4 linked regions of the Homo sapiens genome follow. The main gene of each other region encodes a partner of the protein of the gene in region 2 in a complex. Each region holds a gene or a part of one and is shown on either strand. Other genes may lie near its edges.

Region 1 (9,099 bases), on a different chromosome or scaffold from region 2:
CTCTGCCTCCTGGGTTCAAGCGATTCTCCTGCCTCAGCCTCCCAAGTAGCTGGGATTATAGGGGTGTGCCACTGCACCTGGCTAATTTTTTTACTTTTAGTAGAGACGGGGTTTTGCCATGCTGGCCAGCCTGGTCTTGAACTCCTGACCTCAGGTGATCTGCCCGCCTCGGCCTCCCAAAGTGCTGGGAGGCCAGGTGTGAGCCGCCACCGCACCTGGCCAAAATGTATGGAATTTTAACAGAAAACAGTATGTCTTAGAACCAAGGAAATGTGTTAGATGTTGAACAATGTGCTGCTTCTGTCCAAGTGAATGAAATAATGCACTGGCTTTCAACAGTCACTAAAGCCGTAGCTTCTTGACTAGCTATGGCCAGTACTGCTATCCAGTTGTGCCTCTGAGTTATAACTCAGAGTGTATCTTTACACACTGGGCTTAAAAGACTCATGGCTTTTGTTTTAATATTGCACTTCTTAAACCCAGCTATCACAACACATCACAAGCCTTTGACACAAGGCTAGGATATAGACAGCTCGGTTAGTATCAAGTGCTGATCAAGTTTAAATCTAAAAATAAGCACATCTCAGGTCTACGCCTCTCAAGAATACAGTGATGTCTAAGGATTGTAACTTGACAACTTTGTGGCAACTCAGCACACTTAACAACATCGAAAGAGAACGTTATCAGCTAATAGACACCAATGATCAGAGGAGTGTCTGGCAAGTTAGAGTGTTTTGAAAATGTAATACCAATTATTCCACAAAGGAATGTGATGTTATCATTAAGACTAGGCAACCCTGTCTGTTTCTTCCTGTTGCAAACTAAAGATTTGCTAAATTCTAGTAATAAAACAGATCCCTATATGTCTTCAAGCTTTGTGCTATTCAGCAACAAATATTTTGTAACTGTGGAACAATCTATAGCAAAAAAGGTTTTACAGATATTTTAGCTAAATTATTTCTTTGAATAATCTTGAGGTTTTAAATCTTTAAGAGAGAAGAACCCATGACAAAGGGGCTCTCTGTGACTGGCTGAGTCCATGATGTATTCATAACAGGAGAAATCATTAAAACTCGTGCATGCCTTAATACTTTGCAAAATACCTGGTTATCTCTACAACATCTCAAAAGTGACAACAATATATTTACAGAGTAACCTTCAAAAGATCTCAGATAGCTTTTCAATCTAGCAACCGTGGAACTGCAACATTTTTATTAAATACCAAAAAACCACAATGAAAAAACTGCATTCAATAATGGGGCCTTGAACCTAAATTCTAGCTGAGCAAGCAAATATAAAATTGGTCTAATATGGGAGACTCACAGCTACATGGTCATAGTGGGCTTAATATCCATCTCTTGGTAAATAAATAATACCGTAAGGATTATAAAAAATTTACGCAAACTAATAGCTAATAAAAACTCATGTTCTCTTGAACTCCTATGTGGTGTTCTCTCTAGAGGCTTGTATAAAAGCTGGAATTCTGCTAAACTTTTATAGTACTTAATTCAAATATAATTATGTAATTTTTTGGTGTGATTCTGTCTCTCCCACTGGATGACTTGAGGACAGAAATTATGTTGGTTTTGCTTACTGCTGCAATCTGTATGCCAAGCACAGTAACTGGCACATAGTAAACACTCAATACATGTTTTGAAAGAATCAATTAATGAATTTCACCACAATTCCATTATCTTTTTGAGTAAATGTCTTAGTTTACCATACTTCTTATAAGGAGTTGGGCCTGAATGTCTTAAAATTAACTTAGAAGTTAAACTCAATATATATCATTCACTTTCTTCAGTTACTGCATACCTTGCACGGTTTACACAACTCCATGTACTCAGGGAGAGGGAATTAACCAAGCTAACAGGGCTTCCAGTTTGACTGGGGCCCACAGGACCCATGACCTATTAAAACCCTTCATTTGAGAGAAGTCACAAAAAATTGAGTGTCTGTGGTAGACATAAGCTTTAAATGTGTGATGTCACCATGTGCTTTTAACAGAAAAAAAAAATCAGGATGAAAGAAAGTAGCATTGCTGGAAAACAAAGCACAGGAGAGGGGGTGGAAAAGTGAGTCACTGGCAAAAATCTTTAGTGTGGCAGCCAAAAAAGTAAGACATGTATTTCCATACCTCAATTAGTTTGTCTCCTTTGACTACATCCAGATGTAAACCGGGAGGGGGCTTACCTGCCCTGAAAAATAAAAATAGAAAAAAGCATTTTCAGGATGGGTTTATAAATGCTATTTACAACCATTGTCCCATTCAACATTGCAGCTCTCCTACCAGCCTATAATTAGTTCATGTTCAAGCAGAAATGTCATCCACTTCACTGTTATTACAGCTCCATTCTACGTTTGACACTTACTTCCCTAGTGATTCAATTGCTCTGCAACAGATTTTAGTAGATCTGTATTTAGAGCAGCACCAAGAAACCTATATTTTAACACTGGATCTTCACCTCAGAGAAAGAACTGCATAGAGAGTGCAAGTACGATAGCTGGGGTGGTCTAGTCACCTGGAGTTTGAATCTGAAATCCACCCCTACTCCAATATCATATAAAGACCGAATAAATTAGTTGCTGTTTGGGGCTCATCAAGATTAGTCTCATCACAGAGTAAGCAAAGAGTACTGTCCTGAGCTCTGAAACCAAATCAGAGGTGCATAATTAGGGAACTAGGGCAATTCAAAATCATGCCCCATGAAACCAGGTACCAAATGAATATGTTACCCTTGAAACAGGTCTTTCTACAACAGCATGATTAGGGGACGTTTCCTCTATATCCTACAGCCATACCATTCAAGGGAGACTCATATGTCAAAGCACCTAACGGTGCCTGGTACCTACCAGATCCTAAGGAAAGGGTAGGTGATCTCAAAAACAGTGCTTTCTAACTATGTTTGCTATCTCGGCCCAAATTTGAAATCAATACAGCGAGGGATCAAAATGGATACAGAATTTGTAGACTGAAGCAACTACTACAAAAGTGCAAAGCGATCCAGAAAATAGCCACACATTTGCTTGCTTTTTGGGTTTGCTAATTTGAAGTTAGAAAAAAGAACCACCTCACTAGAACCTTTAGATTTGCACATGAAAAAACGTATCCTTGTCTAGCTAACTGAAGATTCAACACAGTCATCTCACAATCCTGCCCCAACCCCTCCTCTATGGAAAGGACAATGCACCGGACAAAAGGCCATTTTGTCCAGGAAAAAGGAGGAATGTTACATCCAAAACATACTTTCTGAATTCCTACTATGTGCCTGACTCAGGCCTAGGAGCTGGGAATACAAAGATGCAGTCTTTGCCCTTGAGGATGGCAATACAACGGGAGACAGAGACAAGCAACAAACAATACACTGCGATGAGCTACAGCAGAAAAAAACTCTTAATTCAGAAGCGTTTCCTTGTAAGGTAATTCATATTTATTCAACTTGTACCCTACTCAAAGACCAAATTAAATTATTTCATTATTCCCAAGAACTTTCGAAGGGATAAAAAGGGTTCATGCCAACCATTACTAATGCCTACTAGTGCCACAGACTGGGAGCTCCCTGAGGGCAGGGATGGCGCTAACCTACCCTCGTATTCTCTGTGGCAGACAGACAAGTGCCGCACGAGGGATGCAGCAACCACAGAGGGATGCGGGGCTTGGAGGTAGGGTTGGGGCCGGGGCTGGCTCGAGCGCGCTCGGGACGTACAGGAAGGGGCCAGATGCGATGCTCCACGAGAGCACCAGGCACTCAGTCAAGAGTTGGGCGTAAGTTCGGGCCAAGGCCTCGAAGCGCTCCGGCGACTGGCTAATCGCTCAAAGGGGCTGCCTAAGTGAGCGCCTTTGAGCCCCCAACCCCGGGTTTCTTCAGTTCCTGGGCCTGGGCTCCAGGCTCTCGGTTCTTCAACACGTCGCCCGGCCCGGTGCAGCAAACAGTTTTTCCTCAACCATTCCGGGGTTTCTGAGCCGTTCGGCTCGCAGCAGAAAAGTAAAAAAAGAGCCGCCCTTCCAGCCCAGGCTAGCTCCGGCCGGGCCACTCTAGCCCTGGCCGCCCCGCCACTCACCAGGTTGGGCAGTCGAACAGCGGGAGGCTAGAGCCGGAGTTCGCGGCTGCCGCCATCTTGCGTCTCCCCCTCCCATTTGGCGCGCCCTAAGCACGCCGGGAAACTGGAAGACCGAGAAGGGAAAAGCGGCATCCCAGCAGCCTGTGCGTACGCACGCTCACGCACGCCCGTACGGGGGGCGGTGCTTCTAGTGGGGACAGAGGAGCTTTTGGGATTTTTTTTTTTTCAGCGTTTGTGCGAGTTGGCCGTCTCTGGAAGTCTCCAGTGGTTAGGGTTTTCCTTGGCCAGGAGGTGTCAAAGGAAAAGGGGCTTTGTAGGGAGGGGAGTCAGTCTTTCCCTACGTCCTCCTGCAAACGCTTCTTGGCTCTAAAATCTTGGGACTAAGCCGTGCGCGATGGCTCACGTCTGTAATCCCAGCACTTTCGGAGGCTGAGGCGGGCGGATCACTTGAGGTCGGGAGTTTGAGACCAGCCTGACCAACATGGTGAAACCCCGTCTCTACTAAAAATACAAAAATTAGTCGAGTGTAGTGGCACATGCCTGTAATCCCAGCTACTTGGGAGGCTAAGGCAGGAGAATCGCTTGCACTCGGGAGGCAGAGGTTGCAGTGAGCCGAGATCGCGCCATTGCACTCCAGCCTGGGCAACAGAGCGAGACTCCGTCTCAAAAAAAAAAAAAAAAAAAGTAAAGAAAGAAAAAATCTGGGGACTACATCCTCCTCCAGAGTTTAGGTTAAGACCGTCAGCCTTTTGCCCTCAAAGCGGAGAAGCTAAAGGGCAAAACTCGGAGATTGGAGTGATTATTGTTTCTCTTCAGCCCTTCTCCAAAAAGTGGCACCCTACTCACTTTTTTCTAATTCACGTTTAGGCCTGTAGATTGTCAGGGAATCTGCATTAGGGGTCACCTAGTCTGTTTATGAAAACTCTGGACAAGCAGGAGCCAGGAGCAGGTCCAGTCAGAAAGCAGGGGTCCAAATCATCACTGTGCTTGGCTCAAATGGTTAATTTTTTTAAAAAGGATTTTTTGCTTTTGGTTATAGGGCAAGGAAGCATAAGGATTGCTCGCTTGCCCTAGATCACCAGCTGGTTTTAAGAGACCATTAGCAGGGCCTCTGGTTTTTTATTTTTTATTTTTTTATTGATCATTCTTGGGTGTTTCTCGCAGAGGGGGATTTGGCAGGGTCATAGGACAATAGTGGAGGGAAGGTCAGCAGATAAACAAGTGAACAAAGGTCTCTGGTTTTCCTAGGCAGAGGACCCTGTGGCCTTCCGCAGTGTTTGTGTCCCTGGGTACTTGAGATTAGGGAGTGGTGATGACTCTTAATGAGCATGCTGCCTTCAAGCATCTGTTTAACAAAGCACATCTTGCACTGCCCTTTATCCATTTAACCCTGAGTGGAGAGAGCACAGGGTTGGGGGTAAGGTCATAGATCAACAGGATCCCAAGGCAGAAGAATTTTTCTTAGTACAGAACAAAATGAAAAGTCTCCCATGTCTACTTCTTTGTACACAGACACAGCAACCATCCGATTTCTCAATCTTTTCCCCACCTTTCCCCCTTTTCTATTCCACAAAACCGCCATTGTCATCATGGCCCGTTCTCAATGAGCTGTTGGGTACACCTCCCAGATGGGGTGGTGGCCGGGCAGAGGGGCTCCTCACTTCCCAGTAGGGGCGGCCGGGCAGAGGCGCCCCTCACCTCCTGGATGGGGCGGCTGGCCGGGCGGGGGCTGACCCCCCCCCCACCTCCCTCCTGGACGGGAGGGCCTCTGGTTTTAATGGCATTGTCTGTTCAGCAGTTACCTGGGCAAGTATGTATTTTATATGGATCATCTCACTTAATCCTGACAATACTCTTGAGTTAGGTATTATTATAATTCCAGAGGAGAGGCTTAGAGAGATTGAGTTACCCAGCTTCACCCTAGAACAAGTGGAGTGGGATCAAAAACCTAAACCTATATGATGCCGAAGGCCATGCTCATGAGTCACTATTCTCTCTTACACTTTGATGTTGGTATAATTATATTTATTATTAGCATGCAACTGATGCCCCTCTTTTTCACTTTTGTAGACGCGTTGGGAGGATTATCTGACCAGTTTTTCCTTTTTTAAATAAATCAATTGCTAAGTTCCTGTTCATCCAGAAAGAGGCACTGCTCAGCAAGTTGAGGAATCTATGATGAAAGTAGTTCTTTTCTTGCTTCCATGCTACTGGTTCTGTAGAAAATCAGCCTATTCAAAAGATTTTTGCCCTTGATGAAGTCTCCAGCCCTCAAGATTTAACTGCAATATAACTTAGAAGGAGTGAGAAGATCAAAAAAGTAACTGCAATATAACATTAACTTGGATTTTAAGATTATCAACTCTTAGGTAGACTGGAGAAACACCTTTTCCTCTGGCCTTTAAAGCACAATAAACTTATCCAGCAAGGATGGCGACTAATCAGATCACTTATCAAATGGCCTGTTAATATCCTCCTTTTCAGCCTTGTGATTCCAAAGTAAGACTAGGCTGATTGGAAAAATTCAAATTCTAAACTTGGTTTCAAGAAAACAGAAATAATCCTATGTCCCTCTCTTCTGAATACAGGGCATGATTTTTTAGAAGGAATTAGTCCCAAAAGTTTTTGAGTCTAACAGAAAAGAAGAAGATACTTTTACCTACAGAAATTGTGTGGGCCTTTGAGGTTCTATGCTCCTTTTAGGCATAACATGGTGTTGAAGCCATTTGCAGTTAGCAGTGACCTGATAGTATCTTATGGCAACTTTGTATTTCAACTTCTCAGCTTGTGTGATCCTTCTATTGCTGACTATAGACCCAGGAAACCTAAAAGCTACATCTTACCTTTCTAATTCTTTACTCCTTGGCCATGTTCTGTTTCTAGCACAGTAGATATTCACACGTGGCACCTTATGCTTACCTAGGCCCTCATAAAGCAAAATGCTCTTTGTTTGGGCACCAATGATGTCAGTATAGACCAGCAAACTAGAGGGCAGCAATCTAGGTCCTTAACCTTTTAAAATAGACTGATGTACTAGCTGCCTTTGGATTTTGGTATCTCAATAAAGAGATTAGTATGTTGGCCTTTGATAGATTTCCTTAGAATAAGATCTAAAGACATTAGAAGAATATTGAGGTCAGAAAACTTTAAAAAGTTTTTAAATTATTATGTTTTGAGACGAATCTTATTCTGTCACCTAGGCTGGAGGGCAGTGGCAGGATTTCGGCTCACTGCAGCCTCCACCTCCCAGGTCCAAGCAATTCTCCTGTCTCACCTTCCCAAGTAGCTGGGATTACAGGCATGTGCCACCATACACGGGGTTGCACCATGTTGGTGAGGCTGGTCTCGAACTCCCGACTTCAGGTGATCCGCCTGCCTCAGCTTCCCAAAGTGCTGGGATTACAGGTGTGAGCCACTGTGCCCTGCCAGAAAAAGTCTTGCTTTTGTCTCCCAGGCTGGAGTGCAATGGTGTGATTTCAGCTTACTGCAACCTCCACCCGCCAGGTTCAAGTGATTCTCCTGCCTCAGCCTCCCGAGTAGCTGGGATTACAGGCACACACCACCACACCTGACTGATTTTTGTATTCTTATTATTTTATCATTTTTTTCTTTCTGAGATGGAGTTTCGCTCTTGTCGCCCAGGCTGGAGTGCAATGACACAAACTTGTCTCACTGCAACCTCCACCTCTCGGGTTTAAGCGATTCTCCTGCCTCAGCCTCCCGAGTAACTCGGATTCCAGGTGCCCGCTACCATGCCCAGCTAATTTTTCTATTTTTAGTAGAGACAGGGTTTCATCATGTTGGCCAGGCTGGTCTCAAACTCCTGACCTCAGATGATCCACCTGCCTCAGCCTCCCAAAGTGCTAGGATTATGCTGGGATTACAGGCACGAACCACCATATCCGGCCTAGTTTTTGTATTGTTAGTAGAGACAGGGTTTCACCACCTTGGCCAGGCTGGTCTCGAACTCCTGACCTCAGGTGATCCACCCGCCTCTGTCTCCCAAAGTGCTAGGATTACAGGCATGAGTCACTGTGCCCGGCCCTAACTATGCTTTGAAAAGCGGGGAAGCAGCAGGTGATTCCCAGACTTAGGGAACAGGATGGACTGAGATCTGAGGTGGGCTCTGGTCTGCAATTAGTGACCAAAAGCAAAAGCTGAGTTCCCATGACTGAGGACAGTCTCTGAATAGAAAAAAAAAAAACAAAAACACTTAATAGAGGTGGCTCAGAATGTTTTACTTTGCATAGACTGAACAGTAATTTCATTTTGATATTTTGCACTGCGGTGGGTGAACCCTCCCATCCCTACCCCTTAGCAAAACACACACACACACACACACACACACACACACACACACACACTCCCCTGGGAGTATCTGTCTAGCATCTAGCAAGTTCTTATTCTGGAACATTCCCAGATTAAGTAGCCACAGTAACATTTCTACTTTACCTTATACCTTATACAGTATCATAGTTTTTTATTTTTCTTTTTTCTTTTTTTTTTTTTTTTTTTTTTTGAGACAGAGCCTCTGTTGCCCAGGCTGGAGTGCAGTGGTGCTATCTTGGCTCAATGCAACCCCCCACCTCCTGGGTTCAAGCAAAGCTCATGCCTCAGCCTCCTGAGTAGCTGAGATTACAGGCGTGCGCCACCATGCCTGGCTAATTTTTATAATTTTAGTAGAGGCAGAGTTTCACCATGTTGTCCAGGCTGGTCTTGAACTCCTGGCCTCAAGTGATCCACCCGCCTCGGCCTCTCAAAGTGCTGGGATTATAGCCGTGAGCCACTGCGCCCAGCCCATAGTTTTATTAATAACTCATTGGAAGAGAGAATGCTAGATCTACCCAGTACTGCTAGGATATTTCATAAAGGAAGTAGAAAAGGGGATGATGGCTCACGCCTGTAATCCCAGCACTTTGGGAAGCCGAGGCAGGTGGATCACGAGGCCAGGAGATCAAGACCATCCTAACAAACACGGTGAAACCCTGCCTCTACTAAAAATACAAAAAATTAGCTGGGCATGGTGGCGGACGCCTG
Region 2 (8,811 bases):
TTTGCCAATAGCTTTGTTGGCAAAATAAAAAGTGGGCAAGCCCATGTTTTATCCCTGCAATGTTTTGGGGAAATATTACTAGTCATGAAACCACCTTTGAAAACAAGTTTTTATTTTTTATATTTTGGAGACGGAGTTTCACTCTTGTTGCCCAGGCTGGAGTGCAATGGCGAGATCTTGGCTCGCCGCAAGCTCTGCCTCCCAGGTTCAAGCAATTCTCCTGCCTCAGCCTCCCGAGTAGCTGGGATTACAGGTGCCCACTACCACACCCAGCTAATTTTGTATTTTCAGTAGGGACGGGGTTTCTCCATGTTGGTCAGTCTGGTCTCGAACTCCCCACCTCAGATGATCCACCTGCCTCGGCCTCCCAAAGTGCTGGGACTACAGGTGAGAGCTACCGTGCCCGGCCTGAAAAGACCTTTTAAGAGGTTTTCAAAGTTCTTAAGCTGGGAAGTAGAAAGAGAGGGGCCAACTTTGACATCTTCTAGAAAATTCTAGAAATGTCATCTGTTGACTAAATATCTTGGACTCTGACTGGAGTCCAGCCCCAACTGCTCACAGCCAAACAGACTGACACTTACATGTCTGCATCCTCATCCCTTCGGTTGGTTTCTGCAGAAAACGATGTCCCCAGGTGCAGGTCCTCCTCCTCACTGATCCTGGAGGGAGAGAACAATGAGGCAGAGCTTTCAAGTCACAACTCAATGAGGCTGAGTTTTATGTTCTAAGAAGAAAACAAAGACATAAGCATTTATAATATCCTATTTACAGTTGGCAAAAAAAAAAAAATGCCGTAGTATATGTAAAGAAAAGAAACTCTAGAAATATATGCAAGCAAACTGTTGGCTGCTAGTGATACCTCCAAGGATTGAGTGGATACACTTATCCTTAGGTATCCATGGGGGATTGGTTCTAGTGTCCCTCAAGGATACCAAAATCTGCAGATAGTGAAGTCCCTTACATAAAATAGTATAATATCTGCATCTAACCTACACACACACTACCATCTGCTTTAAATCATCTCTAGATTACTTATAATACCAAATACAATGTAAATGCTATATAGTTGTCACAAAAGTACACAGTAAACTTTTATTTTTTTAATTTTTGAATTATTTGAATGTTTGATTTATTAATTTATTGAGACGGAGTCTCACTCTGTCACCCAGGCTGAAGTGCAGTGGCGCAATCTCAGCTCACTGCAACCTCTGCCTCCCGAGTTCAAGCAATTCTCCTGCCTCACCCTCCTGAGTAGCTGGGATTACGGGTGCCCACCACAATGCCCGGCTAACTTTTGTATTTTTAATAGCGACAGTGTTTCACCATGTTGGTCAGGCTGGTCTCGAACTCCTGACCTCAGGTAATCCGCCTGCCTCAGCCTCCTGAAGTGCTGGCATTACAGGCATGAGCCACCGCAGCTGGCCTGAATTTATTATTTTTGTTAATTGTTTTTATATGAAACTTCCCCATAGGTTCACTTATTTTATTTTTTTGAGACAGGGTCTTTCTCTGTCACCCAGGCTGGAGTGCAGTGGTGTGATCGCGGCTCACTCTAGCCTCAACCTCCCTGACTCAAGTGATTCTCCCACTTTAATTTCCTGAATAGCTGGGACTACAGGCACATGCCACCACACCCAGATATATACACACACATATATATATGCGTGTGTGTATATATATATATGTGTGTGTGTGTGTGTGTATATGTGTATATACATGTGTGTATATACATATGTGTATATGTGTGTACATATGTGTGTGTGTGTGTGTGTGTGTATACATACACACTTTTTTTTTTTTTTGTAGAGACAGGGGTCTCACTATGTTGCCCAGGCTGGTCTTAAACTCCTGGACTCAAGCTAACCTCAGCCTCCCAAAGTGTTGGGATTATAGGCATGAGTCATCACGCCTACAATACACTCTTACAAAAGGAGTCTACCAACTTGGCTCTAAGTTAACTTTTAAAGACTTTTTGCTTTCTTTGTTTTTAAATAACACACCCTTTGCAAAGCACAAAACCTGCTTCAAGATGTCCTACTAATGCTGCTGCTACAGGCCCCAGCTCTCTGAGGGAACCTAGACCCAGGCAGCCGCTAAAGGTGAATTTGCATCTAAGCTTGTCCTGAACTTACTTATCTTTGCCCCTTTCCTTCAGTTTCTTCATATCCACCATACCACCTGTCTTCATCTGAAAGGGATCATCCTGCAGAAAGCAAACACAGTTAAGAGGAAGCATCTAAATACATGGTAGTGGAATTTTTTTTTTTGTGAAGCACGCTCACTCACTGAAGAGCACTGCAGGGAGGGCTGCCATAACTACTCAGGGAAGACCCCATAACTTACCACTAGAGTGGTCTCCTCTTGTACCTTCTCTCCCACCAGCAAGGCCACAGCACTGAGCAAAACCAAAAAAAAAAGAGAGGGGGAGAGAGAGAAATGGCATAATTCAGAGATAAGGAGGAACCCTCTCAGGTATGCGGATTGCAACATTAGTGCAAGGGTGGGATTTGAGGGGTGGGTAGGCAAGCCGGCTGGAAAAGCCTATAAGCATAAGACAGGGCTCAACGAGCACCGCAGATGCTGGAAGAAGGGTGCGCTGGTGGTGAAGTGGTACACTTTGCCACTTTCCTGTAAAGCCATTTGGCATTATCTTGGCCTGGAAATCTCATTTCTAAGATATTCTCATCATGGAAAGTGCAGCTAAAGATAAATTTAAGAGAATATCCACTGCAGCCTTATTTGATAGTAAAAATTTACAAAATCACCTACATGTCCCAAAATAGGGGATTTGTTAACAAATTACAATACACACATCTGGTGGAATATTATGCAGCCATTAAGGCTTTCTGAAAAATATTCCACAATATGGGTGAATGCCCACAATGTCATAATGAGTTGAAAAGAACAGGGAATAAAAGTACATAGAAAGTTGTTCACAATCTGAGAGAGAGAGACGAAAAAAAACAGATTGGAAAGAGTATTCAATATTAATACCAGTGCATTCTTGGGTGGCTCTGCAAGGAAAAAAAATGTTAACACTGATCATTTCCGGATGGGAGAATTATGGGTGCTTTTTATCGTCTTGACTATACTTTTCTAAATTATACAAACTCTTAACGATCGATATGCATTTCACAATTAATTGGTTTTAATAAAAAACGCGAGTTAGTGATCTGTTTCTGTATCTCTGGAGCACACCCCGAGACGACACAGCTCAGGGCATGTCCTGGTTAAACATTTGCAAAGAACGCTGTTCTCCAAGTTGGGCAGTGGAAGGTGTACAGTGTGTCAAGAGAAAAATCTACGTCTGAGGAGATATTTGTGACAGCGACCCGGACGCGGATGTGTCTGTCGTCCCCGCCGCCTCCTCCTCCTCCCCGCGTGGTACCCACCTCACCCCGTTGGGCCTCTTCCTCAAGTTCTGTACCTCTCTGGTCTCTTCCAGTTTTAATCTTTAAAAAGAAGAAGAAGCAGCAATGCATAAGCTGAGTGATTCCCCGCGGAATCCAAAGCTAACAGAGCCAATAAGGCACCTTCGAGGGCATCCCAGCCCAGCTACTGAGCCACCAGCACAGTGGTCCAGAGGACGACCTTGTGCCTAGACCCACCGGGAGTCAGAGCCACTGCGCATCCCGGAGGCATCTCTCTCAACCGTTCGAGCTTGGGGCGGTGGCCTCACCCCTTGAGCCTCAATTTCTGCGTCCGCAGAAGGAACCACCACCCGAGCTCACAGTTAACAATGTCAGCGAAGCGCCGAGCCGGTGGTGAGTCCCCCAAACAAGTCTATCTTTACCAAGCCTATGGGAGCCCCGCCCCAAACGCACCGAACCTCCTCTGAGTCCTGCTCATCTTCCTCTGACTCCGAGTCGCCCCGGCGGCGACGGAAAATCTTCCGGACGACCGGCATGGTGACAACGGCCGAGTTGTACAGCCGCCGCGCCTCTGCGCAGCGGCCCAGGCTGCTTCCGGCGCGCGGCAGAGCGGTCAGAGCGCCTGCCCCGTCTGGCCCCGCCCCCGGCACGCACAGTCCGCGTGGCCACGCCCCCTCTCCTGGCGTCAGCCTCTTCCGATTGGACGGCAGAGGGAAGGAGGTGGGGCGTCGCCAGACGGCCCCACAACCCTGCGCGTCGCCTCAGAGGGGGCGCGCTTGACTGACAGGCGGCGGCGGCGCAGTTGCGAGTGCAGGTGAGTTCCGGGCCGCCACCGGCTGCTTCTGTGGGCCGGGCCTCTGAGCATTGGCGACCCCAGCCCGGCTCCGGGCTGACAGGGCCTGGCTTCGCCAGGTACGCCAGACGCAGCGGCCCGGTGAGCGGAGCCCGGGACCCCCCCGGCCGCCGCCGCCCCTCTCCCCTCCTCCGGTCGGCGCCCAGGGGGGCCTCTGGGCCCCAGCACCACCCCACTCTGAGCTCCCTGGGGGCTCGTGGCTTCTCCAGAACCGGGGCCGCCCCCCTCTCATTTCTGCCGGGGCCTGACCTAGCGTTGAAAGCATCCGCGTGGCGTCTCGCGTCTCGGGCGCTGACTTTTCTTTCCTCGGGCTCTGAGCCCTGACGTGCGTTTTTTTCTTTCGGAACAAAAGATGACCACTTCTCTGCGGTGCTGACTTAGAGTCCCAGCGCCGACTGCCTCACAAATAATGGCCCCCAGCTTCTCCGCGAGGAGAGGCGCGTCTGATGTTTTGAAGCCACGCAAGAGGGTTTGAGCCGGGGGACTCCTCCTCGGTGCTTGCCGGCCACCCCCCTGGACCTTCACGGGTCTGGTTTTCCTCCTTCGGCAGGTCTGTCGCTCTACCCTCTGCCCCTTCCACCCCGAAGATGCTGTGAGGATAAAGTTTATTTGAAAAACTGGTATCAGCAAACGCTTAGGAAATACCTAAATGCATAAATAATGGCTTCTAGGACTTTTAAGAACCCCTTAAGTAACAGTAGTTTTCCTTTTCTCAGTGTCATCCCTTACTTTGAGAACTACCTCTTATTAAGCAGTTACTATGTGGCAGGCCCTGGGCAAAGCATCATCTCATTGAATTCTCCCAGCAATCCTTTGAGGTAGATTGTTTTTCGTTTTACAAATGAGAATGCGGAGTCTCCGAGGGGCAGTGCACGCCTCAAGTTACCCAGCTAGGAGGTGGAACAGGAATTGGTTGCAGGTCAGTCTCTGCCGCACGGTTTGCACAGGGCCTGGCACGGTAGGAGTGCAGTAGATGTTTGCTGCTGCTGCAGCTGCTGTTACATCTCATTGGCTAGGGGGAGGGGCCGATGGGGGCTGTCTGGGGTTCCCCTTTCTGGAAGACCATTCCGAAGCAGGGCAGCATTTCTAGAATGCCTTACGTTTTCTCTGGAACAGTCTCCACTGAGATTGTTCTTCTCTTCCTTGGGCTGGAAAAAATAGTAGACTCGGGACTTCTTGCACCAGCGTTTTATCTTTGGTCAAAAGCCATATATTAAAGTCTCAAAGTCTTGCCCTCTGCAGACTGGTTCAGCCAAACCCAGATGCACGTGCACTCACTGGATACGGAGTCCCTGTCAGATGATGGAGAGGCTCCTTGGGAATTGCTGCAGGAGTCCAGGGGGTCAACGTCTGCAGCTCTCACGCTCTCAGAGGTGGCTCTGAATCTGCCCATCAAGCAGCCCATCCACCAGGGGGTACTGGACACTACTAAGGAAAGGGCAAGAAGGCCAGGGGCATTTCTGGACCCTCCTCCTCAGCTGAAGTCCCAGGGTACAGATGAGCTGCTCCCACCCTTGCTCCATGAGGCCAGAGGACCCAGTGATAACCACCACCTGTGCTGTGGCAGATCTAATTGAGTGCTCTTTAGCAAAAGGAATGCTGAAAAAGTGGCAGCTATGAATCTGGCAGTAAGTGGCTTTGCCAAGAGACTGCAGCCCAAGTCTCACTGGGCCCTTTTAAGCGTAGGATGAGACTGTCTCTCAAAAGGACCCTCCGAGAAATACAGGTTCTATGCAGTTCAAAGATGAATCCAAGGTCTTAGTCTTGTTTGGGAGTTCAGTTGTTTTAAGAAAATGTACAGATTCAACCTAGGTTTTGGTTGGTTTCCTAGCTCCTTTCTGGAGCCAGATGAAATGTTGGCTTGTTTCAGGGTTCAGGGAGCATTCATGTCCGATTGGATTTGGGATCCAGCAACGTGATACAGTTCACAGCCCAGCTATAGTCGGCATCCAATAAATGTATTTATTGGATCAATGTATTCAACAGATTCTTAGCATTTACTATATGAGCAGGCACTGTTCTAAGTGCTTGAAATAAGTCAGCAAAAGAGACAAAAGATCCCTGATTAGTTGAGTGTATGTTCTCACAGTAAAGTATGTAAAGTGTGTTAGAAGATGGTAAGTGCTGTGGAAAAGAAACAAATAGAGCAAAACAAGGGAATCACCTCCGGGAGGGTGGCAAGGTTGAGTTGCAAATTAAAATTAGCGCATTCTGGTTTGGGATTTGGTTGGAAACATGACAGATAAAGCAGTGGATTGAATGATAGGCCTTGGGTTCCAGTCACTGCCTGGTGGTTTTAGGGGTCTGTAAGCTTGAACTTTATTTTACAAAAGCTTTTATTTAGAGTGTACACCCTGAACTCAAGTCCTGATTGTGGGGTATTTAACAGTGATGAAAGAGCCAGGCTGTTCTTAGCCTTTTACCTTAGCAAGACAAACAGTATCCAACTGGTTCTCATTAGCATGAAGGAGGAAACTTGGAGAAGCCATGCACGTTGACAACAATTTTTTTTTTTTTTTTTGAGACGGAGTCTCACTCAGTTGCCTAGGCTGGAGTGCAGTGGTGCGATCTTGGCTCACTCCAACCTCCGCCTCCCAGGTTCAAGTGATTCTCCTGCCTCAGACTCCTGAGTAGCTGGGATTACAGGCGCCCACCACCACACCTGGCTAATTTATGTATTTTTAGTAGAGACGGGGTTTCACCATGTTGGCCAGGCTGGTCTCAAATTCCTAACCTTGAGTGATCCGCCCGCCTCAGCCTCCCAAAGTGCTGGGATTACAGGTGTGAGCCACTGTGCCCGGCTAACAACAAATATTTAAAGGCAGGAAAGTGGCAGTGCTCTTTGGCTCCAGTGAGCAGTCATGGCTCAATAAATAGAAATTTCAGGAGAGCCAATTTCCATTGATTATAAAGACTTAGGTTTGTAGCAACTAGAGCTGCCCTCTGGGAAAAGGGTGATTTTATCATCAACGACTGCTCAAACTGGGTTTGGAGAACAACCCAGTATGGCTTTTACAGAGCAGAGTTGTGCCTTAAGGGGAAGATGCATGGTTTCTAAACCCCTTTAAACTCTGAGATTGCATGGGGGAAGGCAGCTGCAGATCATGCTGCCTGAAAAGAGAGGATCTGATTTCAGGCCCCAGAAATCATGATTTTCCTAGTTCTTAGTTTCCGCATCTCTAATGTGAGTTTTTTCTAAGGTTTCTAGTCTGAGCTTCGAGACTGAGTTTCTGCTCATGCTTACTCACCACTGAGTGTGAGGCTTTTAATGACCTGGGCCAGTGACTGGCTGCAGCCTAGGGTAGCCCCAAACCCACGCCTTCTCCAATTAAGGGACTCTTCCGGACAGAGCTCAGAGCAAAGGGTAGTAGCAGGCTTTGAGCTGCAGGGAGATACTGTCATATCCTAGACTGAAGGAAGTTAAGCTGAGCAGAAAAATGCTCTGAAGAATGACTCAGAAGAGGCTCTTGTGAGGAAGCTTCCTTGGAGTACGCGTGTTTGGATTTGGGGAGGTGAAGGTCGTCCCCATGCCAGGCTGGCCGGGGCTGTTTGTGACATCGTGGAGCTGAGTGTTCAGAGCATGGGCTTCAGGGCAGGTAGTCGTGGGTTCGAATTTTGGTTCTGCAGCTCAGTAGCTGTGTGACCTTAGCCAGTTATTCCACTTCTCTGAGCCTCGGTGTCTCCATTGTTAGTGATGGAGATGGATTTAGTTTGGAACCTTGCCACCTCCCAGGGTGGTTGTGAGGGTCCAGTGAGGTCACATGTGAGAACACCAGACTAAGATGTTAGTGTCAGTTCCAATATTCAGGGCCGTGGGGCAGGGGGAAGGGCGATGAGGAGACACAGAAGTGTGTGGGCAGCAGAGACTGTGGAAGTGTGGAGGCATGGGGAGGCCTGAGGGCTCTGCTTCGAGAGTCAGAGGATGGTGGCCTCCGAGTGAGGACTGGGTTAAGGGAAGGGGTGGGTGTGTCTGGGACTTAGGGAGAATGCTGTTGTGTGGAGGTAGAGTAAAGACAGCAGGAGGGAGAGAAAGGGTGTGCGAGGGCCAGAGGGGACTGTGGAGGGGGTGGGCACACACCCTGTGCGGGGCTGGGGGTGTGAGATGGCTAATGTGGTTGGGGTCAGCGTGGGCAGGGCTGTGGGCATCGTTGTGTGGGTGGGAGGCCCAGAAGTGTCGCCCTCCCCATCCTGAGGGACTGGTTCCTCGCTGGGAGGAGGAGGATGTAGCCAGAACCTCTGGGAAAACAATGAGTAACAGGCACCAGAGGCAGCCAGGTCCAGATGTGCTGCCTACCTAGGACCACAGGCTGTGCTGGCTGGTCCCTCCCCTGCCCTTCCTCAGGCCTTGCCCCTCCACTTTGCCCCTGTGGGTGGAGTGGCACTTTCCCCCACCCTGGAGGCCCAGGGAAGGAAAGCTGCCTTTATGAGCCTGAAGCATCTTGGAGGTCTCCTGGGGCCAGCAATGGTGGGCTCTTTGCCAAAAGTCTCAGGCCTTCCTCCCCCCATCCTGTGCTCTCCTGCCCCAAGAGAGGAGGCTCTGGTGGGCCGGGAGGGCGGGGCACACGCTGCACCTTGCTGACTTGTTGT
Region 3 (8,630 bases), on a different chromosome or scaffold from region 2:
TTGTGTTTTAATTAAACAGAGGAACAGACTATTCCACCCTGGGTCAAGCAGGCAGTGCCTACGCTACCTGTGACCACTACTTTAGGCGGGGAAAAGAACCGTCTTTGGCCGGGCGCGGTGGCTCACGCCTGTAATCCCAACACTTTGGGAGGCCAAGGCAGGCGGATAACGAGGTCAGGAGATCGAGACCATCCTGGCTAACACCGTGAAACCCTGTCTCTACTAAAAAATACAAAAAAATTGGCTGGGCACGGTGGCGGGCGCCTATAGTCCCAGCTACTCGGGAGGCCGAGGCAGGAGAATGGTGTGAACCCGGGAGGCGGAGCTCGCAGTGAGCTGAGATCGTGCCACTGCACTCCAGCCTGGGTCACAGAGCGAGACTCCGGCTCAAAAAAAAAAAAAGAACGACCGTCTTTTAAATTTGCTTTAAAAACAGCTCCTTGGCTTTAAAAAAGATTGGTTTTGGGAATTTGGCTAAGTTTATGTTCTCAGCAAACAAATCAGATGCCTCTTAAGAGCCAGGATTCTCCTCTCAGAAGGTTACTACCGTACAGCTGCGGGAGAGCTGTGGGATATGTCATCGTTGAATCAGCAGTTCTAGGAAAAGCGAACGATCTCTACTGGTTTCACGCACACTTGGCTAGCCTCAGCTGAATAATGCAGTCCAAGGAACATAAAAACACAAAAATCGTAAGCGTGAAAAATTTTAGTTCATTGGAAAAGGATTTTATTTCACCATAAAAATGCAAACTGGAATAAACACCATCTTTCCTAACGCGAACGTTACAGCTATTTTTAGGTATTTCTGAGCTTCACTTGGAGAAGCAAACGATTATAAAACAAGTTTGCAGCCTGAAATCTGTTTGAAACATTCCAAGTAAAAATAATTTAGCAAAACAGCTTCTTAAAAAAACCACACACACTAACCTTTACTAGAAACCAAAGCTTTTAACCAATCTTTTTTATGCTTAATTCCTTGACGTTGTAAAAAGTGAATGTTTTTGAAGGAGCATCAGACCATTTTGTACCACTCCCCACATACCGACACCTTAGAAAGAACGGCCCGTTTGAGTTTTGATCTTAAAGGACTTGTACCTTCCTCATCCGTGACTCAATGTCAGCACGACGATTCGGCATCCCACCCAAACTGCACTTCCTGATCAGTTAACATTACAAACGGGGGGGAAAGAATCACCAGGGCAACGCTTTCTTTTCAGTGCCAGTGTGACTATGGTGGCCCGTGCACCTCCTAGGCCGTGCACGCAGGGAGGTCGCCAAGCAGACACAGAAATCCCCGTGTGGGGGAATGCAGCAGCTCTGCCATCCTCACGACTGTCGGTCTGTGCAATTTTCCTGACTGAGAGAGGACCGGCCGCATTAAAGCTATCGGATCAAGTTTTAAAGGACTACGTGTTTGAAACTGAAGTGCCAAGTACGCTGCGGTGAGTGGAGAAAGATGGATCTCTAAAGCATGGTGTCTTCCTTCCTGCCGGCGGGCTCCGTGGACATTCGTGGCTGCAGAAGGGTCTTGGCTTTGCAGGGGTGGACGGAGAGCGGCCAAGGAGCGGCCAGGAGGCTCGAGCAGGTCCTGGTCTTTCCCGGACAGGCCGTGGGGAGGCCGTGCCCGTCATTACCTGTTCCAGGTACTGCGGTGCCTGCTCGGGGACCGGGAGCGCGACCGCTCGCTTCGGCGGCGGTGGCGGCTGTGCTTCCTGCTGGCGCTGCCCCTCCGCTCCCGGCTCCGCTCCCTCCGGTGCCTGTCTTTGCTGTGGGACCTCCGGGACCGGGTGTGGTCCGGGCTCGTGCTGCGCCGGCGGGGGCTGTCATCCTTGTAGGCGTGCTTCTTGTGGGGCCGCCGCTCCTTGCGTGGCCTCCCGTCCTCCCTGCTGCTGGCCCGCCTGGCCCGGCTCCTCTCCCGCTTGTGCCGGTCAGCAAGCCCGTCTCCGGTGGCCCGGCCCCGGCCCTTGCTGGGCTCCCGGTTGCACTTGTCCTGTTCTGACCGGGTGTCCTTTCTGGAGACATTCTGCTCGCAGGCAGGGATGCCCTTGGGCTGTTGGTTGTTGTCAGGAATGCAGGAGAGGACGCCGCCCGGGCACCTCTTCTCTGGAGAGCCATCCTCGGGGACCACACGACAGGAGCTCTGAACCTCCTTGCATGGGGCCTCCTCGGCCACGCTCCCGTTCACGCTTTTGGGAGCGCCGTCGGCCTCTGGGTGGGCCGGGCTCTCCTTGGGGGCACCGGCCGGGGGCTGGCCCCCGAGGGGGTGCAGCGTGGTGGCGCTCACACAGCCGGACGACACGGTCTGCAGGATGTCCAGGACGGGCTGCAGCAGGTCGGCGTGTGCCACGCCCAGCTCGTCGTGTGTGTGGCTGTCGTCCGGCTTCTTGCTCAGCAGGATGCTCAGCAGCCGCTCGCGCAGCTCCCGCTCTTTCCGCTGCAGGCCCAGCGCGCGCTCCTTCTCCTCCTCCACGCGCCGCAGCTCGGCCTCCTGCAGCCGCCGCCGCTCCTCCTGCTGCTGGAGCCTCAGCTTCTCCTCCTTCTGCTCCTGTTCCCGTAGCTTCACAGCCTGCGGGGAAGAGGAAAGTGCAGCTGAGCCCGGTTCCTGAGCCTGGCCGGACACGTGGGACAGGAGCTGGGAAGGTGTTTGGAGGCCCCATGGTCTGGGGATGCAGGATCAGCGGCCTGGCTGGACTCCAGCCCAGGGGTGGGGGGCGTCTCCTACGGCGAGCCAGGTCCAGCCCGTCCATCCCTCGGCTCCCGCGGCCACACCTGGGGCCATCATGCGTCTGAGTGAGAAGGAAACCCCTTGGCAAAGCGGCTCGGCGCAGCCCCAGGGCGGGCCTCTTGGGCAGAGCCGAGCCCTGCCGGGAGCCCCACCACGTTGCACACAGGCGCCTGCGGTTAGGTCACAAGCGGCCGCCAGCAACAGGGAGCTGAGATGACGCCGCAGACGCATGCCACCGCCGTAGCTGCGGGGCGAGCCTGGCCTAGCCTGGGTTAGTGTCTTCAATATTCACCATGAGGTAAGGACTGGGCTGCCACATGTCTCAGCCTCTTGTCATGCTCCTTCCCGGGGACTTATCACAACTGTAATCAGACAACAGGTTATGGGGTCGCCCCGCGTTGGACTCCAGGGGGACGCAGCCCTCCTGAGGACAAGGAGCGTGCCGGGGACGTCTGTCCTGGGGAGGTCTGTCTGTCTGTGGGCCCTGGCCCCGGGCTCATGGGAGTTACCAGTCGCGCCTGCAGGAGGAGCAGGGAGGCTCTTGGTGCTGAGGGGGTCGTCAGTACCGGCGCTGGTGAGACCTGTCAGGTTCACGCTGCGGAGGAGGGACCCGGGCCCACGGCAGGCCCCCTCTGTGCGCTCAGCCCTCCCCCCAGCCCACCTTGCCCCTCTGCTCTGGGCCACTGGTGAGGTCACAGCCAGGCCAGCTGACCACACACAGAGGCGCGGGCCAGAGGGAGCGGCCCCCTGCACTCTCTGCCACTGCCCCGACCCAAAGGAAACAGAGAGCCTCTGCCCTGGCCCCCGGGAGGCTGCCAGCCTGCTCGGGGAACCTGAATGCACCAGCTTTGCAAAAGGAAACCGTCACAGCTCTGAAATCATCGGGAACGACAGACGAGCGCTACACCCTCCCGGGAAGGAGCCGTCATCCTCGGCATTAAAGCTGGTTTCGTAGCTACAGCTGCAGCCGGCGGGGAAACGGCGCCGTGACGCCGCCCGCATTTCAGGGGAGGGCACTGAGGGCAGCCCGGGCGCGGCTGGCGGCTGCAGAGGGAGCCCCCGGGTACCTTGGCTCTGCTGAGCAGCTCGGCGATGAGCCGGATGGACTGCAGGTTCCTCTGGGCCAGCAGCAGCTTGCGCTCCTCCAGCTTGATCTTCTCCTGCAGCTGCTTCTGCTCCTCCGCCTGCAGCTTCTCCAGCTTCTTCTGATTCCGGCGCAGCTCACGGTCCCTCTGCTTCTGCTCCCTCTTGCGAAGCTTCTCTTCTCTTTTCCTCTCTCGCTCCAGCTCTTCCAGCTCCTTTTGTTTCCTGTGTGGAACACACCGGGGGTGGTCACAGAGAGCGCCGCAGCCAACACACCACACACCATACAAGCGGCTTTCCAAACACGGCGGAACAGGCCACGGTCCAACGATTAAGCATTTAACTCTTTATCCCAAGGTGGACCTCGGTTGACTCAAAGCAGCCCGAGAGGTGGAAGGAGTGAGCCGGGCGAGGACCTCCGTGACCTTCCAACACACCGTCCTGCTAAGTGTGACCCAACCCTGAAACCACGAAGAAAACGACCACTGGACCGACCACATCAAAAGCCACGCCCCCAGTCAGGGGAAAGACGGATGGGCAGACGGACGGGTGAAAGAGGAACCCCAGCAGGCCCAACAAGGCCCCGGGATGCACAGCGGCGCGGAGGACGCCGGTTCTGCCCACCAGGAACCGCGCTGGGTGACTCCTTGTTGTGCAGGACTCCTGTGAGGGCACCACACAGCACTGGCACGGGGGGACCTCTCTCTAAACAAATCCAACCACAGCCACGCCACTCAGCTCCTTGCACTTTTCCTGTGGAGAGGGGTGTCCAGGAAGTGAGGATGAATGCGGCCGGGGAGGGGCGCGGTCCCCAGAGAGAGTCCACAAGAGACAGTGGGGAGTTCCCTAGCTCAGCCTCCCCCGCCCCGCAGCTCTCAAATGCATTTCAACCAACACCGGACATGGGAACAAGTCGCAGCTGTTCCTATGGAACACGACACGGAGGCGGAGACTTCTGAAGCCCGGGTGGGCGCCGCCAACCGCCTAGTGAGGCCACAAAGCCCGCCGGGGTGACACAGACCCACGCAGACACCAAGGGGAGAGGAGACACGGGGACAAGGAGGAGCAGGCCGGGAGAAAAGGCATCCCACGCTCTGCCACCCCAAGAAGGGGGCCGGGCCAGGTGCCGACGCCCAGACAGTGATCCACACGGTCTCCGGGCGGGGCATGCAGGTCCTCAGGCAGTTTCATGTGCTGAAGGTTTAACCGCCCTGTGAGCTGTCACCGCCCCACGAGCTCGGAGGGCGGCTCAGGGCAGCCCAGCACACAGCACGCCCTTAGGCGGGACCCACAGCGACGCCTCGAGGCTGGGCAGCTTTCAGAGGACAGCTCTCATCAAGCTCAAAGTTACACGTGAGGGCTGAACAAGCAAACATGCCTCATCTCCACCCACCAGAAAGAAATGCAGGAGGCTGCCCTGGGCCTCCCCTCATGCTCAGCCTCTGAGGAAGGACAGTGGGGGACAGCGGGGACAAGTACGGCCCTGCGTGTGGAGCCCTCCTGGCCAGCTCCCCCAGACAACAGGCCTGCCCCTCCCCGGGGCTCTGGACACCCCATCCTGCTCTCGAGAACCTCATGGCCCGGCCCCGCTTCCCCCAATCCCTCTGTGGTCTGGCCAGGCAGACGGGGTCCCTTCCCTGCAGAGACACACTCCACTACTCCAACGTCCATCTCTCCTCAGGGAAAGATCAAGGATGCAGCTTCTTCTCCGCACCCGCAAGCTGCTTTCTGAAATGTTGCGGGGACACTCCTGCGACACCGAGAGGTCCGAGGCTCTGAGTCCCACTCCACACTTCCAGAATGTGGACAGGCACATTCAGCCAGGCCTGGGCTGTGTCTGCAGCCTGGAAGAGTCCCTGTAACGCCCCAGGACTGTCTCCCACCCCAGCTGTCCTGCTCGGCCTGACAGTGGCTGACACAGGGGACCCGGACTCAACCCCACATCCGAACCGCCCCTCCCAGGGACCGCCTCCCAGGATGGCGACGCAGCAGCATGTCCCTCCCTCCCAGGGCGTCTGCCTCTCTGTGCTGCCTGCCTTAGGTCCTGGGAATCCTGACGGCTGACATGGGCCCCCCCAGCACATTCACGGCCACTCGCTTACACACTGCACCTGCCTCACCTAAGGAGCCCTCGGGGTTCAGATTCAGAGGCTGACAACCCGACTCTCCCCTGGGGAGGCAACGGGGGCTACGTAAAGAACACCACGGGCAGGATGGACCTGCTCCCAGGAGTTCAGTGCCGGGACTCTCGTGCAAACATCACCAGCCACACACATCAACACGCTGGCACCAGCGTCACATAAAGCAGTGAGAAATGGAAACAAAACGGACCAACTCGGTCCCACCAGAGGCTGTCCAGGAGCCCCCCAGCCAAGTCCAACACGTCCCAGACTTGATATCGGCGACATGAAGCGCAACAGACGTGCAGGACGCACCAAAGTCGTCAGAGGACACAGCGGGAGGGACGGAGGACGAAGAGGAGTAGGAGGAGGAGGATTCCGCCTCACTAGGAGGGTGGGAGGGACGGAGAAGGAGGAGGAGGAATCCACCTCACTAGGAGGACACGGCAGGAGGGATGGAGGAGGAAGAGGACGAATCCGCCTCACTAGGAGGGCACAGCGGGAGGGATGGAGGAGGAAGAGGAGGAGGAGGAGGAATCCACCTCACTAGGAGGGTGGGAGGGACGGAGAAGGAGGAGGAGGAATCCACCTCACTAGGAGGGTGGGAGGGATGGAGGAGGAGGAGGAGGAATCCACCTCACTAGGAGGGTGGGAGGGATGGAGGAGGAGGAGGAGGAATCCACCTCACTAGGAGGGTGGGAGGGATGGAGGAGGAGGAGGAGGAATCCACCTCACTAGGAGGGTGGGAGGGATGGAGGAGGAAGAGGAGGATTCCGCCTCACTAGGAGGGTGGGAGGGATGGAGGAGGAGGAGGAGGAATCCACCTCACTAGGAGGGTGGGAGGGATGGAGGAGGAGGAGGAGGAGGAGGATTCCGCCTCAGGGGATTCACAGAAAGTTGTTGGTTCCCTCCTGCAATGCTAAGAAGATAAAAGGGGCTACAAAGAGTGACCTGAGGTTGTCTCTGGTACCCCAACCACAGTGAACGACCCAGGCAATTGCTTTAAAGGCCTCTTATGTGAAACCGGGTTTTTGTCCTATCATTGGTTTTTTGTTTTTTTTTTTTTTTTTAAATCTGGCCATCACCATCAACCCTCTACTTCATTTTGTAAATGTAGCCTCAACCTAAATGCAAACTTGCAAACAGCCAAGGCATTCTGCTTGTTTCAGCGGGAGGTGTGAACAGCATGTGGAGGGAGAAGAGGTGGCTCTTCGGGCAAGGCGCGGTCCTGGGAGCCGGCAGAGATCGTGTCAGACCACGACGTGTGACAAGAAAAAGAGAAACATTCATATTCTGCTGCGTCTCAAACAGCCACTCACGCAGGTCCTCACGTGCACAGCTGAGCACCCACAGGCCTGCACACACACCCATACGTGCACACACAAGTACACACACGGGTTCACAGGCACACACGCATGCACACAGGCACATGTGTGCTATGTGCCGATACAGAAGCACACACATGTGGGCACACGTGCACATACACACACAGGTACACACACGAGCTCACACACATGCACGCACACACAGGCACACGTGCACACAGATGCTCAGGCACACACTCGGGCGCACATAGGGACATACAAAGTACACACACCGGTTCACAGGCACACGTGCGTCCATGCACACAGGTACACACACAAGCTCACAAGCATGCATGCACACACACACGCACAGGAATACATGCAGACACACGCACACGGGTCTGCGCACACTCCCAGGTGCCGGACACCAGCGCCGAGGGCCCGCTCCCGCAGAAGGTACCTTTCCTCCGCTCGCTGCCTCTCCTCCGCTTCCTTCTCTCTGCGCTTTTGTTCTTCTCTTTGCTGCTCCAGTTCCTGAAGCTTCTGCCTCTCCAGCTGCCGCTTCTTAATTGAGGCATCACTCAGGTGTTTGGTCGAATCAAAAGAAACCTTTAAAAGCAAAAACAGTGTCAGATGGCCTTCCCCCAAAACCCCCCAGACACACGGCCAGGCGCCCTCTCCTGGGCCGTAGGGCCGAGTGGCCTCAGAGCCTGAGCGCCCGCTCACCGCTCACCGCTCACCACTCATGTCCGGTGCAGACCCAGACAGTGGAGCCCAGAAGCCAAACCAATCCCTTCAAGTCACCATCAGTGGCTCAAGACTTAGCTCATCCCACGGAGTTACGACTCAGCGAGGAACACCAACTAGCCCTCGCCACTTACTGAACACAAGTGACACGCCACCGCTGCGAGACACAGCTCCCCTTCCGCTACCCGGCTCCACCATTCCCTGTGGCCACAGTCACTGAGCAGGCCGCCTGCCCACACCCACAGGGCACATCTTAAGGCCACAAAACCCCCTCCAGGAGGCTGGCTCATTTGTCACTGTGAAGCCAACACGGTCAAAACACGAGGCTAGGCTGAGCGCAGTGGCTCACGCCTGTAATCCCAGCACTTTGGGAGGGCGAGGCAGGCAGTTCATGAGGTCAGGAGTTCGAGACCAGCCTGGCCAATACGGCAAAACCCTGTTTCTACTAAAAATACAAAAATTAGCCAGGTGTGATGGCACGCGCCTGTAGTCCCAGCTACTCGGGAGGCTGAGGCAGAAGAATCGCTCGAACCCAGGAGGCGGAGGATGCACTGAGCAAAGATTGCGCCACTGCACTCCAGTCCAGGAAACAGATCGAGACTCTGCCTCGAAAAAAAAATAAAAATAAAAAAAATAAAAAAAATAAAAAAG
Region 4 (4,258 bases), on a different chromosome or scaffold from region 2:
TCACATGGCCTTTCTCCTGTGTGTATGTGCTCCTGGTGTCTCTTCATATAAGGACACCAGTCCTATTGGATTAGGACCCCACCCACATGATGTCATTTAACCTTAATCACCTCCTTAAAGGCCCTTTCTCCAAATATAGTCGCATTGGGTGTTAGGGCTGAGTTTTCAAGAAGAATTTCACATCCCCCTTTAGCAACCTTTCCCCTTTTCTGCTCCTCTTTAAAAGGACCTCAAAAGAATTGTTGTTTGGTATCTCTAGTTTCCCTCCCACTCTCTGTAAGATCTAATCCAGTCAGTCTGTCATCCTCAAGACTCCACGGAATAGCTCTTGTCAAGGTTACCAGTAAACTCCAGGTTACAGAATCCAATGGCCAATTCCCAATCTTTATCTTTTTTGACCACCCAATATCAGAGAAATCTTTTAAAATATGTCAGCTCATGTCACTCTTCTGCTCACCACTGTCCATTGGCCGCACATCTCAGAAAAGTGAGTCTTTACATCAGCATGTAAGACCCCGCATGATCTGGATCCCTGCTCTTACTGCCCACCCATCCGCCTCCATCACCCTATTCCAGCCAAACTGGTCTGCCTGGTGCTCCTCAAACTCCAAGCACTGTCTTGGGGCCTTTAGAATCACTGCCCCTCCATCTGAAATGCTTTTTTCACAGATACCTTCATGATTCATGTTCCTCTCAAGTTCTCGCTCCAGTATCAAAAATCACCCTATTAGCTAACTACCCTGTACAAAATAGCAACTTCCCACCCCAGAGTTGCCCAGTTTCATCACCATCTCACATATATATATGTTTTGTTTTGTGGTTTTTTTTTTTGGAGACAGGGTCTCTCTCTCTCTGTTACCCAGGCTGGAGTGCAGTGGCACAATCTCGGCTCACTGCAGCCTCTGCCTCCCGAGGTTCAAGTGATTCTCCCACCTCAGCCCCTGGAGTAGGTGGAACCATAGGCACACCACCCCCCCGACCCCATGCCTGGTGAATTTTTTGCATTTTTTGTAGAGATGGGGTTTTGCCATGTTGCCCAGGCTGGTCTCAAACTCCTGGCCATCTCAGCCTCCCGAAGTGCTGGGATTACAGGCCAACATGTATATATTCTGTTTGTTGTCTGTCCTCTCATATTAGATTGTAAGCTCTATGAGGGCAGGGATATTTTTAAACTACCATACTGTCCCGATGTAGGACAGTTCCTGGCACATAGTAGAGACTTAATATTATGATCAGTGAATAAAGATCTAATTGGTAGAATTTTTAGTTTGGATCTCCTTGGTATCTGTTTTTATAAGCCAGACTTCCCTTCTCCCGAACCTCAGTATTTGTCATTTAAACAAATACCACTTGGAAAAAAAATCAGCCTTATCTCGAGTCTGTTGGATAAATTATATGCACCTGAGAGACCAGCCTTGAATTTTCCAATTACCTCATACATCTAGGGAACTGCTTCCCATGAAGAAGCCTGTTGTATTATATCATCTATCCCCATGTGCCTTTTAATGAATCTGATTTCAGAATTGAGAACAAAAAGCTTACCATTTATTTCAGTTGGAGGTTTCAGTGATTGGACAACTTTATGTAGATGAAGTAACATTGCAATAAAAAATTTCCAGAAGACATCTAGGTTCTGGCTAATGTGTTAGCCTTTAAGCAATATTAATGGTAACAATTCTGTTACAAATATTTAAAGTTTGTGTGTGGGTGTTGGGGATTGGGGGTGCTGTCTCATGCATGCACTACAGTGGAGTCCAAACTCAATTTAACTGAGCTGTCTTGCCTGCTGAAAGACCTGGCAGAGTCAGTGATCAACAGAGCCCAAGACTCCAAGGTGAGGCAAAAAAAGAGTGGGAGGATTTAGGAGCTGTCCCCAGTGTAACAAAGTGCTTCAGAAATCACCTTTGAATTGTGAGCATTGAAGCGTCAACAAGATGCAGCATTATGATGTACGTTATGCCTCTGGTGTTACAGGTAAGAAAAAAGAGTCACAAATAAGAGCCTCTGTCCTCTGGGATGTTGTAACAGGATAAACACCTTGGCTGTCTTGGATAATAAACATACACATACCTGTCAGCCCACCCATACTCTAATGTCCCAAATGCAATAGTTGCTCAACTTTCCTCCAGAGAATGTATCCCTGTATGGTAGGTTTGGCTCAATGAAGAGGTGGTTCAATGAAGTGGATGCTCATTAGAAGCAGGCAGTATAGGAAGAAACATCTCACTCTGACTTGTGAGCTCTTACATATTGATTTCCATTCTTTCATCACTTCCTCAGATCTTCCCTAACTAGGTCAAATCCTGTTATAAGCCCTCCCAGCCGCACAGTCCTCTCTTGTAGCACTCAGCATCATGGCTGATTCACAGCCACACGGGGTTGACTAATGCCTGTCTCCCTTAGATGCTAAGCCTCAGGAGGACAGGATAGTTTTTCATTTTTGCTTACTTTTATATTTCCAGTGCCCAGCAGTGCCTGGCATATAAAAAGTGTTCAATATACATTTCTGAATTACTGTGTGGATAATTAAGCAAGAAAATAGTCTCATCCTTTCTGAAGTAGTCTCTACCTATTAATACATCTGGATTTAGCTATGGAATCTGGGTAAAAAGAACTCAAGATAGTAAAAACATTGTGTAGCTGCATATCTGTCGCCCCTCTTCCCTCCCTGGGAGTTAGGCTGGGTTTGCTTTTTTTTTTTTTCATATCTATCTCCATCCCCTAACTACTGACTTCTGTGGTAGTTTGTACTATAAATGACCCTGATTTCATTTGTAGTTATGAAGACATTTTAGTCTAGGTCATATGCCTAGGAATTCTGAATTTCTATTATAATTCTCTTTGTGCCTACAGATGTGCTTTTAAATTGTTCCTGCCCTTTCCTAAGTCTAGATGCTATATCACAAACAGCAGCACAATATCCCACTTTGGAAACCTAATTCTTTCAAGGTATTAGAGTTGACAGCAAAATTTCAGACAACCAGAGGCCACACTGAACACTGGTGTCTCCATGCTTATCCTATTAGTGCAGGAGAATCTGGCTTCACCTTTGAGCCCTGCTAAAAGCCATTTCATTGAGCAACAGACAATCAGAGCAAGGAAACAACTCAGTGTTCATGAATTGCCATGCTAAATCACTCACAGGATTGATAGAGAAATAAGTCACCTCCCATAAACAGAAAATTTTTTTTTTCTGTTTTTCCTTCTTTTCATTAGCAATTGTTCCAAAAACACTTACTCTGCTAATTTCTGCTAGAAAGAATCACCGTTCTTTCTCTGTGGCCCAGGCTGGAGTGCAGTGGTATGATCTCAGCTCACTGTAACCTCCGCCTCCTGGATTCAAGTGATTCTCCTGCCTCAGCCTCCCGAGTAGCTGCAATTACAGGCACCCAACATCACGCCTGGCTAACTTTTGTATTTTTAGTAGAGAGGAGGTTTTGCCATGTTGGCCAGTCTGGTCTCGAACTCTTGGCCTCAAGTGATCTGCCTGCCTCAGCCTCCCAAATGCTGGGATTACAGGTGTGAACCACTGCGCTGGGCCTGCAATGGGAGTCACTGACAAGGTTTTTAAAGGGCCCAGGACTCTGTCTAGCTGCGGCATGCACAATACTCCTATTTGATCAACATGGCTAAGGCAAAGTCAAACTACATACCTTCCATGAAGTCAATTCTGTCGAGTAAGAAATGCCTTATAAATCCGGTGCTCAGGAATGTTGCACTTTGGAGACAGATGTTCACCATCTGGTTCTCAGCTGCACCCATGCTGCTGCTGGTTCTCATATTCCCAGACCTTGTCCCACAGCAATAACACTAGCACTTGTGTGGCCCTTCATGGTTTTCAAAGCATTTATTACCTCATATCATCCATGCCCAAGTCAGGTGCAATAGGCAGATGTAAAAAGCAAATCCAGCAGCAGTATTGTGACATGAAGGAAGGCTGGTTAACACAGGCAGGACTCATAGTGCAGCACCTCAATTAGACCACTGTGTTGTGGGATGCTGCCCATCGCTAGAAGGTGCAAAGACCCACCTTGTCATACCTAGACTTGACGAAACTGATTTACACTAAAATGAATATGAGGCTGAGACAGATACCAGAATGCCACTTCTGTTAATTCATGCCTGTCTCCCTTAGATGCTAAGCCTCATGAGGACAAAACAAAAAAAACCAAACAAACCCAGCCTAACCCCCAGGGAGGGAAGAGGGGAGACACATATGCAGCTCCACAATGTAATTCATGTAATCCATCCCAGCACT

Evidence for each region.
Region 1: C9orf78 (region 2) and PPP1R8 share a complex: the UniProt entries of both Homo sapiens proteins name them as parts of the spliceosome.
Region 3: C9orf78 (region 2) and AKAP17A share a complex: the UniProt entries of both Homo sapiens proteins name them as parts of the spliceosome.
Region 4: C9orf78 (region 2) and TTF2 share a complex: the UniProt entries of both Homo sapiens proteins name them as parts of the spliceosome.

What each region holds. Positions count from the first base shown.
Region 1 is NC_000001.11:27,825,855-27,834,953, reverse strand, and holds the start of PPP1R8 (nuclear inhibitor of protein phosphatase 1), read right to left. Parts: upstream 4,173-9,099; 5' UTR 4,119-4,172; coding exon 4,063-4,118; exon of another isoform or gene 3,171-4,062; intron 2,199-3,170; coding exon 2,138-2,198; intron 554-2,137; exon of another isoform or gene 388-553; intron 1-387. UniProt on the Homo sapiens protein: Inhibitor subunit of the major nuclear protein phosphatase-1 (PP-1). It has RNA-binding activity but does not cleave RNA and may target PP-1 to RNA-associated substrates. May also be involved in pre-mRNA splicing.
Region 2 is NC_000009.12:129,831,315-129,840,125, forward strand, and holds the start of C9orf78 (splicing factor C9orf78), read right to left. Parts: upstream 3,962-8,811; 5' UTR 3,908-3,961; coding exon 3,825-3,907; intron 3,453-3,824; coding exon 3,393-3,452; intron 2,396-3,392; coding exon 2,344-2,395; intron 2,204-2,343; coding exon 2,133-2,203; intron 660-2,132; coding exon 582-659; intron 1-581. UniProt on the Homo sapiens protein: Plays a role in pre-mRNA splicing by promoting usage of the upstream 3'-splice site at alternative NAGNAG splice sites; these are sites featuring alternative acceptor motifs separated by only a few nucleotides. May also modulate exon inclusion events.
Region 3 is NC_000023.11:1,594,595-1,603,224, reverse strand, and holds the end of AKAP17A (A-kinase anchor protein 17A), read right to left. Parts: intron 7,842-8,630; coding exon 7,693-7,841; intron 4,034-7,692; coding exon 3,793-4,033; intron 3,088-3,792; exon of another isoform or gene 3,018-3,087; intron 2,567-3,017; coding exon 1,631-2,566; 3' UTR 705-1,630; downstream 1-704. UniProt on the Homo sapiens protein: Splice factor regulating alternative splice site selection for certain mRNA precursors. Mediates regulation of pre-mRNA splicing in a PKA-dependent manner.
Region 4 is NC_000001.11:117,104,719-117,108,976, reverse strand, and holds the end of TTF2 (transcription termination factor 2), read right to left. Parts: 3' UTR 1,524-4,258; downstream 1-1,523. UniProt on the Homo sapiens protein: DsDNA-dependent ATPase which acts as a transcription termination factor by coupling ATP hydrolysis with removal of RNA polymerase II from the DNA template. May contribute to mitotic transcription repression. May also be involved in pre-mRNA splicing.